Regions from separate parts of the Homo sapiens genome. Here region 2 is linked to region 1. A link means that fine-mapping ties the variant in region 1 to the expression of a gene that starts in the linked region. Tissue or cell type: blood mononuclear cells. Region 1 holds a variant in brackets; the other region holds the start of a gene. All regions are shown on one strand. Distances are between the middles of the regions.

The links. PIP is the estimated chance that this variant, and not a neighbour inherited with it, causes the effect.
Region 2: it holds the start of CYB561, and the variant in region 1 is fine-mapped to the expression of CYB561 in blood mononuclear cells (TOPMed, PIP 0.91).

The regions. Positions count from the first base shown.
Region 1 is chr17:63,606,873-63,614,976 of GRCh38, forward strand. TACO1 (translational activator of cytochrome c oxidase I) reads left to right here. Exons shown (of 5, transcript NM_016360.4): 4 at 415-592; 5 at 930-1,493. The coding sequence ends at 1,130. It also overlaps the pseudogene FAM136DP. Among named protein-coding and RNA genes, the nearest start is that of TACO1, 10 kb to the left of the region's middle. RefSeq lists enhancers at 3,734-4,234, 4,235-4,735. The variant T/A (reference allele first, on the strand shown) is at 3,473.
Region 2 is chr17:63,443,105-63,451,208 of GRCh38, forward strand. CYB561 (cytochrome b561) reads right to left here and starts at 3,202. Exons shown (of 6, transcript NM_001915.4): 1 at 3,141-3,202. RefSeq lists silencers at 2,899-3,458, 3,629-3,818 and enhancers at 3,788-4,601, 3,959-4,098, 4,602-5,414, 7,582-8,082.

The sequences.
Region 1 (8,104 bases):
AATCTAATGAGTTAATTGACTTTCCCTTAATGTAGTTTCTACTAGCAGGATCCCAAAGACTTGTTCATCGGATGTAGAAGGGGATCTTTGTCCTATTATCCCCATCTGTAGCCATATAATGCCTAAGTCTTAAAATGCTCCACCAGGACTGGCATCTTAATGGCACAGGAAATTATCAGCTAAGTCTGCTTCCTCCCAACTGCAATCAGGGCAGAAAATCGAGCGTGGGGACATTCTTGGGCTGTTCCCTTACCCAGCAGCAGCTGCATTTTCTCCTTGAGGATGCGATCTGCTCCATGTCTGTGTGTACTTCATAGACTGGGTAAGAAAGAGACAGTGATAGAATGATGAGCTTTATGGAGGCTGAGCTTCTAGAGGCATCCACTCATGCCAGCCTGTTTCCTTCCCTGTCAGAGGAGTGATGGCTGTAGGAGCTCGTCACTCTTTTGACAAAAAGGGGGTGATTGTGGTTGAAGTGGAGGACAGAGAGAAGAAGGCTGTGAACCTAGAGCGTGCCCTGGAGATGGCAATCGAAGCAGGAGCTGAGGATGTCAAGGAAACTGAAGATGAAGAAGAAAGGAACGTTTTTAAAGTAAGCATGAAAACATGGGTGTTTGGTGGGCTTCCGGGAGGACCCTGATAGATGCCTTATGCATGCCTCTTGGTTTCTTCCTTCATGTGCCCCAGGGTATAGGTGAGACAGTTCACATATTGTACAAACATTTATTAAGTGAATACTGAATAGGACCGACTCTAGTGAGGACTATGAGAAAGAAAGAGTCAAAACATTGAAAACGATGTCCCTGCCAGTGAAGAGCTCAAACCCAGTGATCCATTCCAGTACTGACATTCAGGACTTTGCAAGGTCCTGTGTGGCTTTGTCTCATTACCTCCTGGCTCCTCACCTCCTGACTTTCCTTTATCCCTAGTTTATTTGTGATGCCTCTTCACTGCACCAAGTGAGGAAGAAGCTGGACTCCCTGGGCCTGTGTTCTGTGTCCTGTGCACTAGAGTTCATCCCCAACTCAAAGGTGCAGCTGGCTGAGCCCGACCTGGAACAGGCCGCACATCTCATTCAGGCTCTCAGCAACCACGAGGATGTGATTCACGTCTATGATAACATTGAATAACCAGGCTACATGTGCCCCCGGGTTCCTTCCTAGAAATGTGGCAGCCCATTCCAGCACACAGGCTTCTGCAGCAATCTCTGAGGGTAAAGCCGGTGGGAGGCTCAGCAGGCCAGGAGGCCCAAGGACAGGACTTGCGACCTTGAAGCCAAAGGAATCTCACTTGTGGGGCCTCCTTGTCAGCTCTGCTGCTGTCTCAGAGCCATCTGGATGAGTGTCCCGACACCCTCTCGGATGCAGGGCAGGACCACCCAGCTGGTCAGACTCTGATGTTGGGTAGCTGGCCTCTGTGGGGATTGTAAGTGCCCTGAGGCGCTCTGTACTAGAAACTGCTCTTAATAATAACGGTGATTATTGGTTGCTGCATTGCTGTTGTATGGCTCTTGAGTCTTCCTGAGTTTGTGTCCAGCTGTTGGGATCCTCTGGACTAACTTTCAAGTCCCTAGGCTTAGCTCTACTACTCCAATCCCAGGATTATTTTTTTAATTGGCCATAGAAATGTAGTTGTATCCAGGCACTCCATGGTCTGATGCTGGTCTTACAGCCTAAACCTGTCATTCATTCATGCAACTAATATTTCTGGAACACTAGCTATATACCAAGAACTGTACTTATCTAGAGCATAAGCTATTCAACTGGTGTCCTGTGTTAGATCCTGCTCTAGAAGGTAGGACCTGAACACAGGACTGCTCTTTACTGGAGCTGTCCCAGGGCAGTGTGAGCTGCTGTGCAAGCATCTGTTGCTCTCTTTGTGTGACTTCTGTGCCCTTCTTTCACCAAACAGCTTAAGGTTCTAGCCCAGTAGGAAATCAAGTGCCAGTGATAAGGGACTTGGCAGTGGCTCACACCTATAATCCCATCTACTCGAGAGGCTGAGGCGGGAGGATCACTTGAGCCCAGGAGTCTAAGGCTACAGTGAGCTATGATTGCACCATTGCATTCCAGCTTGGGTGACAGAGTGAGAACTCTTCTTTTTTTTTTTTTTTTTTTTTTTTTTGAGGCAGAGTCTCACTCTGTTGCCCAGGCTGGAGAGCAGTGGCACAATCTCAGCTCATTGCAGCCTTGACCTCCTGGACTCAAGCAGTCCTTCCACCTCAGCCTCCCAAGTAGCTAGAACTACAGGTGCATGCCACCACGCCCAGCTAATTTATATATATTTTTGTAGAGATGGGGTTTCACTATGTTGTCCAGGTTGGTGTCGAGCTCCTGAGCTCAAGTGGTCTGCACACTCGGCCTCCCAAAGTGCTGGGATTACAGGCATGAGCCACCACGCCCGGCTGAGTCTGTCTCTTTTTTTTTTGAGACAGAGTCTTGCTCTGTGGCCCAGGCTGGAGTGCAGTAGCATGATCTTGGCTCACTGCAACCTCCACCTCCCAGGTTCAAGTGATTCTCCTCCTTCAGCCTCCCAAGTAGCTGGGATTACAAGCAGGCACCACCATGCCCGGCTAATTTTTTTGTGGAGGGGGAGGGGAGAAAATTAAACTTTATTTATTTTTAAAAGCAAACCACCGGGAAAATATAACACAGCCTGGAAGCAGCAAATGGACAGGCTATATTATCATTTCAAGTAGTAAGTTGATGAAAATACAATGAGGTTGCTATCAAAACAATAACGTGCCATGCCGGGGCAGGAACACTGCAAGTTGCGAAAGCCCCAGGCAAAAATGGTTTTTGGTACTGGGGTCTGCCTCTCCTTTGCTATAAGGGAGTCAGCTCATCCTAGCCCAAGTTGCTTACTTTTTCTTCCTTGGATTTCCTGTTGCCAGGGTTTGTCTCAATTGTGCTTTGTTAATTCAGGGGGCTAAGTAGGCAGTGCTAGGTTTAGGCTTTCATTCCATCCGTTCTATAAAAACCAGGTTTTTCCAAATCCAGTACTTCATAACTCTGTTATAATCAAGTAGCCAACTGCTCTTCTTTTACTGTTCATTTCTAGATACTAGTATATATCACAATCAAAACCCCCTTCTCTTCACCGGGAAAGTGTTACTGCAAGATTGTCCTGTCATTTTGCTACACACAGCCTCGGCCCATCAGCCAGTAATTATGCTTCCCATAATTAGTATGTCATCACCTCTCATGTTTTTGCATGGTCTCCAGGCTGAAAGATGCAGCATGTAATAATTTTAAGAAATCTACATCTACATCTTGATGACCAGAAATGGGGATCCTCAAGGAAACTTTCAAAGTTCTTATCCAAACTAGTCTCCCTCCCAATTCCACATCTTAAAATCAATTTGTATCGCCTTGTATAAATTACACAAAACCAAGAAAACAAAGACCCAGAAAACTTTTTTGCCCTTCTAAGCGGGTGACCTCATGGATTTTGTTTCACAGCTTACGGAAAA[T/A]GGTGTGGTGACACTTCTGGTAAACAGGATGTTGGCAACAAAGAGAAAATATCTCTCCTCAAACTCCACCAACTCTAACCTGCCAGCCTGTTGGTACCTGTGTAATAAGAAGAGTTTAGTGCCTTGGAGGGCTCTGGCTTGTTACAGGGGAGATCCTTACTGGCAGGACAAGCACTGGCCATAGGATATATAAGCTCTAAAACTCTCCTGTAATATCTCTGACCCAATTTAGCACCACTTTTTTCCATTTCATTTTTTAGGACTGAAACATAAAAGAACCAGTGTCCAGAGGCAAGTGACATATGTCTTACACTTGTGGCCATCCTTCATTTCTTCATAAACTTTGCTTAAAAGACTAAAATTCCCAATTCCTTATAAAAAATATATTCTTGCCCTCAGCCCCAGTGGCCACTGGCAAAGACTGTTATTTCCCAATGGATAAGAGAGCCTCCTTCATCTTCTTGGCCATAGTTGGGATGAGGTGCGTGTGGTCATCCACACACTTGGTCACACAACCGTCCAGCTGCTGCTTCACCTGAAGCTCCTTACTCCCAGTATCCATTGAATCTTTGGCTTTGTTGTTGCAATGCATGGCGCACCGGGCCAGGTGGTGCCGGAACTTCTCCAACTCACTGGTGAGCAAAGCCCGGGCTTGAGCCAGAGGCACATGGCAGTGCTTTGATGTACTGGTGCACCTACTGCATGGAGGCCTGGCTGTCCTCACAACAGCTGGTGCTGCACCGGAACATGAGACCCTGCATCTTCCAGATGTTCTCTCTCTCCAGACTCTTCACCATGGAGTCCACCACCTCCTGCACCCACAGCTGCTGCAGCTCTGCCATGGCGTCCCCATACCGCCCTGCACCGTGCCACCCCGGCTAATTTTTGTATCTTTAGTAGAGACCAGGTTTGGCCATGTTGGCCAGGCTGGTCTCGAACTCCTGACCTTAGGTGATCCGTCCATCTTGGCCTCCCAAAGTGCTGGGATTACAGGCATGAGCCATGGCGCCCAGCCTCTGTCTTTCAAAAAAAAAAAAAGGGACTTACTAGGGCCTGCTTTGCCTGGGTCCCTATGCATCCTGGGATTGGTCAGAGTGAACCAATGAGAAGACTGAGCTGCTCTCAAGAAGGGCTACCACAAGCTGGTTTTGAAAGCTTCTTGGTTCTGAGAACAACCAGCCCTAGATCCTTTTCATCTCTGATGCCAAATGATGTGGCACTGAGAACTGAAGAGGAAACGTGAACAGAAAGAAGAGTGAGGGCTGAATAAGAAGCCTCGCCAGTGGGAAATAGGGCCCTTGGTACCTTTTGCTCCTAATAGTCACATCTGTGTTTAGAAGGGCCAGGAACTCCCACCTCCTGCGTCAGAGCCTGTCAAGCATGTCAGGCCTAGAGTGGCTTTCTGATCCCTGTTATACACCTATTTATAAGTTATCTAAGCTAATTCTGAGCTCAGAGTAATTTTCCTGAAGGAGCTTCAGGTAAATAAGGATGACAAAGAACTAAAACCAAATTTACTGTAAATGATAACTTCAGCTTCTAAGAAAAGAATTACTGACTCCACACTGATGTCAATAGCTGGAGAGCAAGGGCTACGAGGAAGAAAACCAGTGAAATAATCCATGGTCATGCCACTTGCCCAAATATCTGAATTGCTTATCATTAAAAAAGAGCAAATTTACGTTTATATGTGGCTTCATAATTTGTAAGATACGTTTACATGTTATTTATTTGATTTTCCCAACAAACCTATAAAACACTTTGGCCAAGTATTTTATGCACAAATGATCTCATACCAAGCAGGAAAGAACAGGTCTTACACTGATAGACCTTGGTGTTTATAAAATAGCTCTGTTTTGGAAATTAATTTGGAGGAATCTTATTTATAATCTGAGAAATCTGTACTAAGGGAGTCTGCTCTTAAAGGGAACATGGCTAGTCATGTGAATAGATCTCTAATGTAGCATATAGAATCTTTATTAATATGGATTGTTGCATAACCAATTATCTTACATCAAGACATGCTTACTGTAAGGCACAGTAAAGGCTCCTGTGATGATGGCTCTGCACTGACCCCTAGTGGTGCCCTGCAGTCTCTCTCCTGCAGTTAATAGGAAAGGCAGAAATGAACCCTTCTTGAATTTGTTCTGCTGTCTCTAGATCTGGAAAAGAGACCCTGAGCTATTCAAATAAAGATGGTCACGGCCGGGTGCGGTGGCTCCCGCTTGTAATCCCAGCACTTTGGGAAGCCGAGGCGGGTGGATTACCTGAGGTCAGGAATTCGAGACTAGCCTGGCCAACATGGTGAAACCCCGTCTCTACTAAAAATACAAAAATTAGCCAGGCATGGTGGCAGGCGCCTGTAGTCCCAGCTACTCAGGAGGCTGAGGCAGGAGAATCACTTGAACCCGGGAGGTGGAGGTTGCAGTGAGCCGAGATCACACCATTGCACTCCAGCCTGGGGCACAAGAGCGAGACTCCGTCTCAAAAAAAAAACATTAAAGATGGTTACATCCATATGCCAAGGTATTATGTTGCCACTAAAAATTATTTTTTAAAGAATCTTTTGTCAGAGAAAATGTTTAGAATATAACATTAAGTGGGAAAAAAGATACAAAACTACATGTATAGTGTGGTCCAAATTTTGAAATAGATATGTATATATTTATTTAACATATTATATATATGAACTTTTTAAAAAAGACTAGAAGGAAATGTACTAAAATATCAAAACAGGTTATCTCAGGGTAGTGATGTTATTACTGAGCTTTATATTCTGTAATCATGTTTTCCTTTTTTCTTTCTTTCTTTTCTTTTCTTAAGAGATGGTGTCTTCCCGGCCGGGCGCGGTGGCTCACGCCTGTAATCCCAGCACTTTGGGAGGCCGATGTGTGTGGATCATAAGGTCAGGAGTTCGAGACCAGCCTGGCCAATGTGGTGAAACCCCGTCTCTACTAAAAATATAAAAATTGGCTGGGCGTGGTGGCGGGCGCCTGTAATCCCAGCTACTTGGGAAGCTGAGGCAGGAGAGTCATTTGAACCCAGGAGGCGGAAGTTGCAGTGAGCCAAGATCGCACCACTGCACTCCAGCCTGGGCGACAGAGCAAGACTCCGTCTCACCGAAAAAAGAAAAAAAAGAGAGAGAGAGAGATGGGGTCTTCCTGTGTAAGGCTGGTTTTGAATTCCTGGCTCCTAGGGATCCTCTTGCCTCAGCCTCCCAAAGTGCTGGGATTATAGGTGTGAGCCACTGTGCCCAGCCCCCATGTTTTACTTTTATCAGGTGACATAATTAAAAAAAAACCAAAAGCTAGTCTCACAGCATCTGAGAGTCTGGGAGTCAGATGCATGTTAAAGTCAGAGGAATGAGGTCCAGTGCTGGCTTGGCTTGCTTTGCCTTATCTTTGGTTATTGTCTTAGCAACATAAAATTATTCAAGGTCTTGAAGCCACCTTGGGCTTACCTTCAAGTGTCCTTTTAGTGGGACAGAAGTATCTGTGATAGGCTCTGTTCACAGTCTTGACTGTTATAAGAAGCACTCTTGTGCGTAGCCACCTCCCCTCTGCTAGAGGCCCTGGCTGAATCCAAGAGGAACAGCAAAGGCTGTGCCTCCAACCAACTGTGGAAATTCAGCCATGTGGTTGAGTTACTTTTTTTTCTCTGAAACTTATAGCAGTCAATAAATTTTCAAACTCGAAGAGCCCCCAATTCCCAGACTTATTTGAATCCCCAAAGACACTTCTGGAGACATTCTCTTCACAGAAAATAAGTCTGGCAAAAGGGAATGCGATGATAGATCCACAATACTCTTTTTCTTTTCCTTTTCCTTTCCTTTCTTTCTTTCTTTTCTTTTCTTTTTTTTGTGTGTGTGTGTGTGTAACAGGGTCTTTGTCAGCCAAGCTGGAGTGCAGTGGCACAACCATCGCTCACTGCAGCCTCAACCTCTCAGGCTCAAGCAATCCTTCTGCTTCAGCCTCCTTGCATGCCACCATGCCCGGTTATTTTATGTTTTGAAGAGATGGGGTATTGCTATGTTGACAGGGCTGGTCTTGAACTCCTGGGCTCAAGTGATCCTCCCATCTTGGCCTCCTGAAGTGCTGGGATTACAGGTATGAGCCATCAGCCTGGTGCCACACTACTCTTAACTGAAATTATTCTATGTCCAGCCAGTGAACAGGATAGCATTTTTACTTCTTTGTTCTTTTTATTTTTTGTGTATGCCCAAAAGGTAACATTTATTGTCTTTAAAAAGGCAAATCTTACATAAATAAATAACAACAACAACAACAACAAAATTCCCATTTAATTCTACCTCCTAAGATACAACCACCATTAACGATTTATATTTTTTCACTCTTTGGAGCCAGTCTGCTAGGGACCAAATTCTAGCTCTGCCAACAGCTAGCAACCTTGGACAAGAACTTAACCTCTTTGTACATGCTTCTTTACCTGTAAAATGGGGGTAATGATAGTACCGATTACATGCGGCTGTTTTGAGAATTAAGTTAATATATGTTAAGCACTTGAAACAGCACCTGGCAATAGTTAAGTGTTCAATAAATGTTGGCCTTTTTCTAAGTGTGAATGAGCATTTTTTTTTTCATTAAAAAATTTTTTTGGCCAGGCATGGTGGCT
Region 2 (8,104 bases), 160 kb before region 1:
CCTAGAGCGTCCTAGCATGTGATGAAGGAGAAAGCAAAGTGTGGTGTGAGCTATTAGGGTACTTTCTTAGCACCCCAGTAGCCCCAGGAAGAAGGGGCTTCCCAGGCAGTGCTCCCCATCCCATGCCAGTCCTCCTGCATCCTCCCCACGCTTGTACCAGCATGGCACTAAGCCCTGGTGCATGCAGAGACACCAGGCCCTGACCAAAGGGTAAGAGAGAAGGCATTACAGGAGGGTGAACAAGCCGCAGGGGCTGCATTTCCATTTATCCTAGGGCGGCTGTCCTGGCCCAGGCAGCCCAGGGACCCGGGGTATCCAGGCTGCTTGGACCAGGTACCAAGGAACTAGGTACCCAGGAAGCAGCAGAGCCTGAAGTCAAACACTGAGCTCCTTTCTCCCACAAGACAGAGGGCTCCCAATGCTTACAAACCAAAATGTTTCCATTTCCATGAAAATCAGAAGAAAAAAATGAACATTTAGGGTTGAGGAAAATGTTGCAATTTTTTAAAACTTATTTTAATTAATTTTTTTGTTGTTGTTGTTAACAGTGTCTACCTCTGTCACCCAGGCTGGAATACGATGGCATGATCATAGCTCACAGCAGCCTCGAACTCCTGGGCTCGAGGGATCCTCCCACCTCAGCCTCTCAAGTAGCTGGAACTACAGCTATGCTGAAATGCCCAGTTAATTTTTTCTTTTTTTGGAGAGATAGGGTCTCACTATGTTGTGCAGGCTAGTCTCAAACTCCTGGTCTCAAGCAGTCCTCCTGCCCCAGCCTCCCAAAGCTCTGGGATTACAGACAGACATGAGCCAGCCCTAAAATGTTTTGTTTTTAAAATTAATTGTAATCCAGTCTGGACTATACTTGTATTTATACCAATGCAGTTGTAAAATATAATTTTTATTAATTTTTTTTTTTTTGAGGCTGGAGTGCAATGGCAAGATCTCGGGTCACCGCAACCTCTGCCTTCCGGGTCCAAGCAATTCTCCTGCCTCAGACTCCCCGAGTCTGGGATTACAGGCGTGCTCCACGATGCCTGGCTAATTTTTTGTATCTTTTGTAGAGACGCGCTTTCACCACTGCGCCGGGCCAATTGTTATTATTTTTTTTATGGAAGACGGGGCCCGTGAAGGCCAGAGGGCCAACGGCCCATGAAAGGCCCAGCGCAGCCCAGGTTAGAGAGATGTGATTTCAAAACAGACTCATTATTTATAACCATCAGCTCCTGGACAAGCCAAGTCCCTTCTCCAAGCCTGCTTCCTAATCTATAAAGTGGAGGATATCTGGAGCTACCTTATTGAACACAGAAGGAGTAAGTGGATAAAGGTGTGCCAGCGCCCAGCACAGTGCCTGCCACAAAGTAGGCATTCCATCAAAGACCAATCTTACAAAAACGAAATCTGGTCCTAAGAGCACCTTAGAAAGAGTCACACTGCTGACACATGAGGTTTGGGGCCACAGAGAGCCAGATGGCAGCCGTCTCTAATAAATCTACACTCCATTGCTGTCCACCATTAGCCCCTGCACACCAAGCAGAAGCTCCTGGGGCTGGAAGAACACAGGATGGTCTGCTTTTAATCTGTGACATTGTATATTCCCAAAATTCATTTATGAATTGTTCAGACAGTAGAGTGCTTTTTCCCAGTGAAGCTACGCTTTCAGAGGGGGTTAATTTCTCATTCCCCTCCACCAATGCCATCTAATGCCACTGAACCATCCCAGTATTAGCAGGAGCCCAAGCTCTGCCTGCCAAGGAAAAGTGGTGAGGGCAGAAAAGTAGTAGGACAAGGCTGGGCACGGTGGCTCACGTCTGTAATCCTAGCACTTTGGGATGCCAAGGCGGGCAGATCACTTGAGGTTAGGAGTTCGAGACCAGCCTGGCCAACATGGTGAAACCCCGTCTCTCCTAAAAATGCAAAAATTAGCTGCGTGTTGTGGCACACACCTGTAATCCCAGCTACTAGGGAGGCTGGAACAGGAGAATCGCTTGAACCCGGAAGATGGAGGTTGCAGTGAGCTGATATTGCCCTCTGCACTCCAGCCTCCTGGCAACAGAGCAAGACTCCATCTCAAAAAAAAAAGAAGGAAGGAAAGTAAGGAAAGCAAGAAAGCAATAAAGCAAGAAAGAAAAGGAGTGGGACAAGCAGGGTGGTTCCACCTCCAGCTCTAGGAGGCTCCCTCATGCAAGGAGGTGGGGCTGCCACCGCCTCGTATTTTCCTGCCTCCATCAAATTTCACCGGGAGAAATCCAGGCACCTAGAGGAGGTGGCAAAGCTTTTTTTTTTTTTTTTTCATTAGCTATTAAACCAAAGGGGCAGAATCTAGGCGCCCTAGATGTAACTTCATTTACGGAGTCAGAAAATCCACAAAGGCTGCCAAGGTGGAATGAATGAGAGGAGGACGACCAGAAAGGAGAAGTCTGGGAAGGGGACCCCAGATCCACACGGATGATCCTCGCTCCGTGATACAGTCGGGGACAGGGCAGGGAGGGAGGGAGGGAGGGTGGCCCTGCCATCTCCCAGGTGTCAAGGTGGCGGCAGCTCCGCCCTCAGCGCAGTTGGCACCGGCCTGACCCACCACAGGGCCACCGAGGCCACCGAAGCCATGGGGCTTTCCCACTCGGGAAACTCCCACCCTCGCGCTCAGAAGCTGGGGGCGTCGGGAGACACAGGCGGGGACCTGCGGCTCCACGTTGCAGCCCGGGCCCTGCTCGGGGCAAGAGGCGGTGGCTCCGGTTTCAGATTTCAAGAGGGCAGCCGTGGCAAAGGCTGGTTGGTCCATTTGCACCCTACCTTGCTCTAGAACGCGGCGCAGGAGCAAAGATCCAAACTCGGGGTCACCAGCAAGCGGGGGTCTCGGTTCTAACTTCAGCAGAGACCCGGCACCCGGGCAGGCCAGGGCAGGGGCCGCCTGGACCGGGAGAGGCTCGGCTCCGAGAGGGCGGGCGAGCCCTGCAGCCCTCGGGCCCAGGGTGCGGGTCGGCGCCGCAGTCCAGTGCGCGGCCGCAAGGGGCAGGTGCGAGGCCGGCTGCTACTCGGGAGCCCCGCGCTGTCCCTCCCTGCGCAGTCAGGGCTCACCTGGGCCGCCCCCGCCCCGCACCCCTGCGCGCTCCGCTCCCACCCCCAGCCCGGCCTCCTACCTTGCCTACCCGAGCGTCCCTTCAGCCTCCCCGCGCCGCGCCCGGGTCGCTTGGCCGGTTCTGCGGGCCGTGGCGCGACGGCGTCGCCATGGCAACCGGGCGGCGGGCTGGGCGGTGTCTCCGGGACCGGAAGTGGCGTACGCGGCCCCCGGGGCTGCCCCGCACGTGCCAGGTCCCCGCGGTTGCGGCCACGCTCGGGACCGGGCCCTGCCAGCTCCGGGCCCGCACGTGGGCGAACCGCGGCCACCGTGAGCCCGGCCTCGCGACCTCCCTCCGGGGCCCCCATGATCGGGGGTGCGTGGGATCTGCGGCCTGCGGGGGTGGAGGGCCGGGAGCTCCCCCGGGCCTGCCTCGAGGGCCGCGGGATTCGTCCTTGCGAGCCCCGACTGCGCACGGAAGGACCTGGGGTCGGCCAGGCCTGGGGGATGGGACGGGCCCCGAGGAGAGCGGGTGCCAGGGGCGAGACCCGCCGCCCTTCCCCGGCTTGGTCCCGCGCTTCCTGATTTTCTCGCTCCACGCCTCCCATTCTGCCCTCCACCTTCTTCCCTGCCCCGCCCTCGCCCTGCCCGGGCCCAGGAGGCCACTAGATGTCAGACCCGGTTCGGGCCTTGGCCACGCCGCCGCTCCGGGAGCCCTGGGGGCACCTCCCCAGCCCCCACGGGGGAGACGATACTGCCGGGAAGGCCCGGACTAGCCCCCGCCCCCGCAGAGTAGCCTTCGGGGAACACCGATTCCACCAGGCTCTCACGAAAGCCGAGAGCTTGCCGTCCGCAGCTTCCCCTGCCCAAAGCGCAGAGAAACGAGGGCGCCGAGGCCAAGACCAAGACCGGGAGCCAGCCCCTTCGGAGCCCGGTCCAGGCCCCCGGTCCAGGAAGTGCTGTGGGTAGATAAGGGGCCCAGCTCAGACTTCCTACAAGCTGGGAAGAAAGGGTTCTTTCCTGTCTGATGCCGGGCCAGATGTAGCAAGCGCCTAGGGGTAGGAGGGAAATGGGGTTTCCTCCCCGCAGAGGGAAACCGGCCTCCATTCAGGAACGCCCTCCCCCACCTGCCCTCCAGGCACCGAGGTTCTGGGAGGCCGGGGGGCAGGGAGACCTGCTTACTTGAATGCGCTTTGTGTATTGCCTGTGTATTGCCACAGGCAGTGGGCAAGATAGGCCCTGGGGATCCAGTACTCGCTTAGTACACAGAGAGCAGTCTCCAGCGCCAGGCGAGACGCACAGGCGTGTCAGCTGCATATGGCACACGGTGGCACATGGCACACCTTCCACGAGCAGACACAAGGGGCCGACACAGCAGGGCCCACCCCCTCAGAGGGACCAAGCTTAAACCCTCCAACAACAGAAAATTTGTAGAGTATCTTTCAGTTGGAGGAAATTAATGGATAATTTAAAGTAAGAAACAGTTTCCTTAGCGTGCTAACAGGCAGAATCCCTGTGGATTGAAGGTGGAACTGAGCCATGTCCTTTGTTTGGTCTGTGGATTTAGACGTGGAGGAGGAGTCCTGACCGGCTGAGCAGGGCTGAGTTCCCTCGTGAGAGCCCCGGGCCTTCAGCCCCTTCCAAAGCCAGGAGAGACTCCTGCTGAGGGGTGATAGGGGCCCTTTGGCTTCCCCCTCACCCCACGGCCCAGCAGCACGGGGCTGCAGGCTTTTCCCTTAGGAGGAAGAGCAGCCGCCTCCCTGCCAGCAGTGTTCTCAAGGGCCTGCTTCAAGTGGGGAGGGGTGGGTGAGGGTGTTCTGACTGAGGGAGAGGCCTGCACACCCGCTGCATGGGGGGGCTCATGGCTACACCTAACCCATTTTAAAGAACAGGCAACGCCACCAAACTGCTCTCTGGCACTAGGGCCCAGAGGCCTTGCCCCAGCTCCCAGATGTCCCAACCCAGGACGACAGACACCCAGACTAACTACCTTGCAACCCTGTTCCTGCTGCCGAAGCTCCTGCCTTGGAAGCCTGAGAAGTGTGCAGTCCTTCAGCTTGGGAAAGGTGGGAAAGGAGAGGACCCCTCCTGCCCTTTCTTGAGTGGCACAAGATGAGTTCCAGGGCCTCCTGAGTTGTGCTAACGCCTGTAATCCCAGCACTTTGGGAGGCCGAGGCGGGCGGATCACCTGAGATCGGGAGCTAGAGACCAGCCTGACCAACGTGGAGAAACCCCATCTCTACTAAAAATACAAAATTAGCCGGGCGGGGTGGCACATGCCTGTAATCCCAGCTACTCCGGAGGCTGAGGCAAGAGAATCACTTGAACCCAGGAGGCAGAGGTTGTGGTGAGCCAAGACCGCGCCATTACACTCCAGCCTGGACAACAAGAGCAAAACTCCGTCTCAAAAAAAAAAAAAAAAAAAAAAGGAAATGCTGACTGTGTTTCCATGTTTCCACTCCCTTCCCACATCGCAGAACCACGCTAGCCTTTCTGTTTTCAGATGCACCAAGTTCACTCCCACCTCTCCATGGAATGTTCTTTCCTGGATCATCTCTGGTCACATTCTCTCAAATCTCAGCTCAAACATCACCTCCTCAGGCCTTCCCTGACCATCCAGAGGGCAGCTGGGGCAGGGATTAGGAGGTAGGAGTGCTCCTGGATTCCGCGTGCTGGGCAGCCAGGCCTAGAGTGCCCCCTGGTCTCTGACAGAAAGCATTTAAGGAGGAGGAAGCATCAAGGAAGCAGGCAGAATGTGAATAGAGAGCTGGAGACTCAGGCCGTAGACCCACCTGGCACCTGGCTAGTCACTTCTCCCTTGCTAGGGTTACCAGATTCAGAAAGAAGAGGAAAAAATAAAAAAAGGCTTCCCAGTTAAATTCAAATTCAGGCCGGGTGCGGTGGCTCACACCTGTAATCCCAGCACTTTGGGATGCCGAGGTGGGTGGATCACCTGAGGTCAAGAGTTCGAGACCAGCCTGACCAACAAGGTGAAACCCCGTCTCTACTAAAAATACAAAAATTAGCTGGGCAAGGTGGCAGGCACCTGTAATCCCAGCTACTTGGGAGGCTGAGACAGGAGAATTGCTTGAACCCAGGAGGCGGAGGTTGCAGTGAGCCAAGATTGTGCCACTGCACTCCAGCCTGGGCAATGGAGTGAGACTCCATCTCAAAAAAAGAAAACCAAAAAAAAATTCAAATTCAGTTAGTTTTTTCAGCATGAGCATGTCCCAAATATTACATGCAGTATACTAAAGATGTATTCCAGCTGGGTGCCATGGCTCATGCCTGTAATCCCAGCACTTTGGGAGGCTGAGGTGAGCGGATCACTTGAGGTCAGGAGTCCAAGACCAGCCTGCCAATGAGGCAAAACCCTGTCTCTACTAAAAACACAACAATTAGCCAGGCATGGTGGTGGATGCCTGTAATCCCAGCTACTGGGGAGGCTACGACAGGAGAATGGCATGAACCCAAGAGGTAGAGGTTGAAATGAGCCAAGATCATGCCACTGCACTCCAGCCTGGGGTGACAGAGAGAGAATCTGTCTTAAAAAAAAGATGTATTCCTCACATGTGAGCAGATGTCCTGTGTTTCATCTGACAATCCTACTGCTCTTGCTCGGGTGTGGGAAGGGCAGGGGCCCAGTTCTAGCCCCTCCCAGCAATGGCTTCCTCCCTCATCTCTGAACCAGTTAACCCTCATTCAGTAGGGACTTCAGGCAGAGGCCCTGACCTTGGGCAGCAGAGGATACAAAGGGATAAGAGATGGTTCCCCAGTCCTCAGACACTATAAGATTCAAATGCACACCATTCATTCTTGGGAAAGTTTTATTTTTGTACCTTCTCTGTGCCAGGCACTAGGTGAGGTATTGGGGAACAGTGAACAAGACAGGCACCACCCTGTTCTCACAGGCCTTCAGTCAGGGGAGCTGCACAGAGATTTGGGGAGAGCCTTTGAAACTACTCTGCCCAAGCCCATCTCTGACCACCTTACAGAGGGAAAACCAGGATTAGGTACAGGGCATAGGAAGGCCCTCAACCCAGATGTGAGGGTCAGGGAAGGCGTATTGGGTCATGACAGAATTATCGAGCCAGAAGATGCTCAGGTGTTAACCCGGCAGAGATAGTCAGGGAGGAGGCAGGAGTGTCCCTGGTTAGAGGAGCAAGGATGATGCAAGGGAAGGCTGTAGGGGGCTAACCTGCAACCCTCGGGGCTCCCAGGCTTATTTTCATGAGGATTTGCCGGAGCCAGAGTAATAGTGCAGAACTGAGCCACAGCCTGCAGAATCAGCACTCAGGAGCCAAGCCCTGTCCAGCTCAGGAGGGGGCCTGCCCTGAGGGACCTCACAATTGACAGACACAGCCCCCGACCCCATATCCTGCAGTGGAGCAGCCTTAAGTCCGCAGGTATCATCTTCCGGGCCTGCTCCCTGAGGAACTTGAAAGTACGAGGCTACTTTGATGAGCTTAAAATAGACCAATTAATCACTCAGGGAGGAAATCCATCTCCCAGCTTCGGGGGAGGGGACAGGAAAGCAGTAGCCCCGGCAGGACCCGTCAGAGCAGCCAGCAGCACAGCGGCCATGTGGCAGGGCACCTGCAAGGCTTCCGGAGCCACCGACGAAGACCCTGAGTCACCTGCAGCCTCTGGAGTGTGGGGGGAAGGAGGCTGAGGGACGTCATTGCCTGTGAGTTGTCACCCTGCCCCTGGTTAACCCCAAGGCTGGTCAGTCTGGGAAAAACAAGACAGACAAAAGAGCCAAATACCACTGGGGCAAGAGGGAGGGAGAGGCCATGACAGAGAGGACAGTTAAGCCACCTTTTTTTTTTTTTTAAGACGGAGTTTCGCTCTCCTTGTCCAGGCTGGAGTGCAATGACAGCTCACTGCAACCGCCGCCTCCGTGGTTCAAGTGATCCTCCTGCCTCAGCCTCCCAAGTAGCTGGGATTACAGGAATGCACCACCACGCCTGGCTAATTTTGTATTTTTAGTAGAGACGGGGTTTCTCCATGTTGGTCAGGCTGGTCTCGAACTCCCGACCTCAGGTG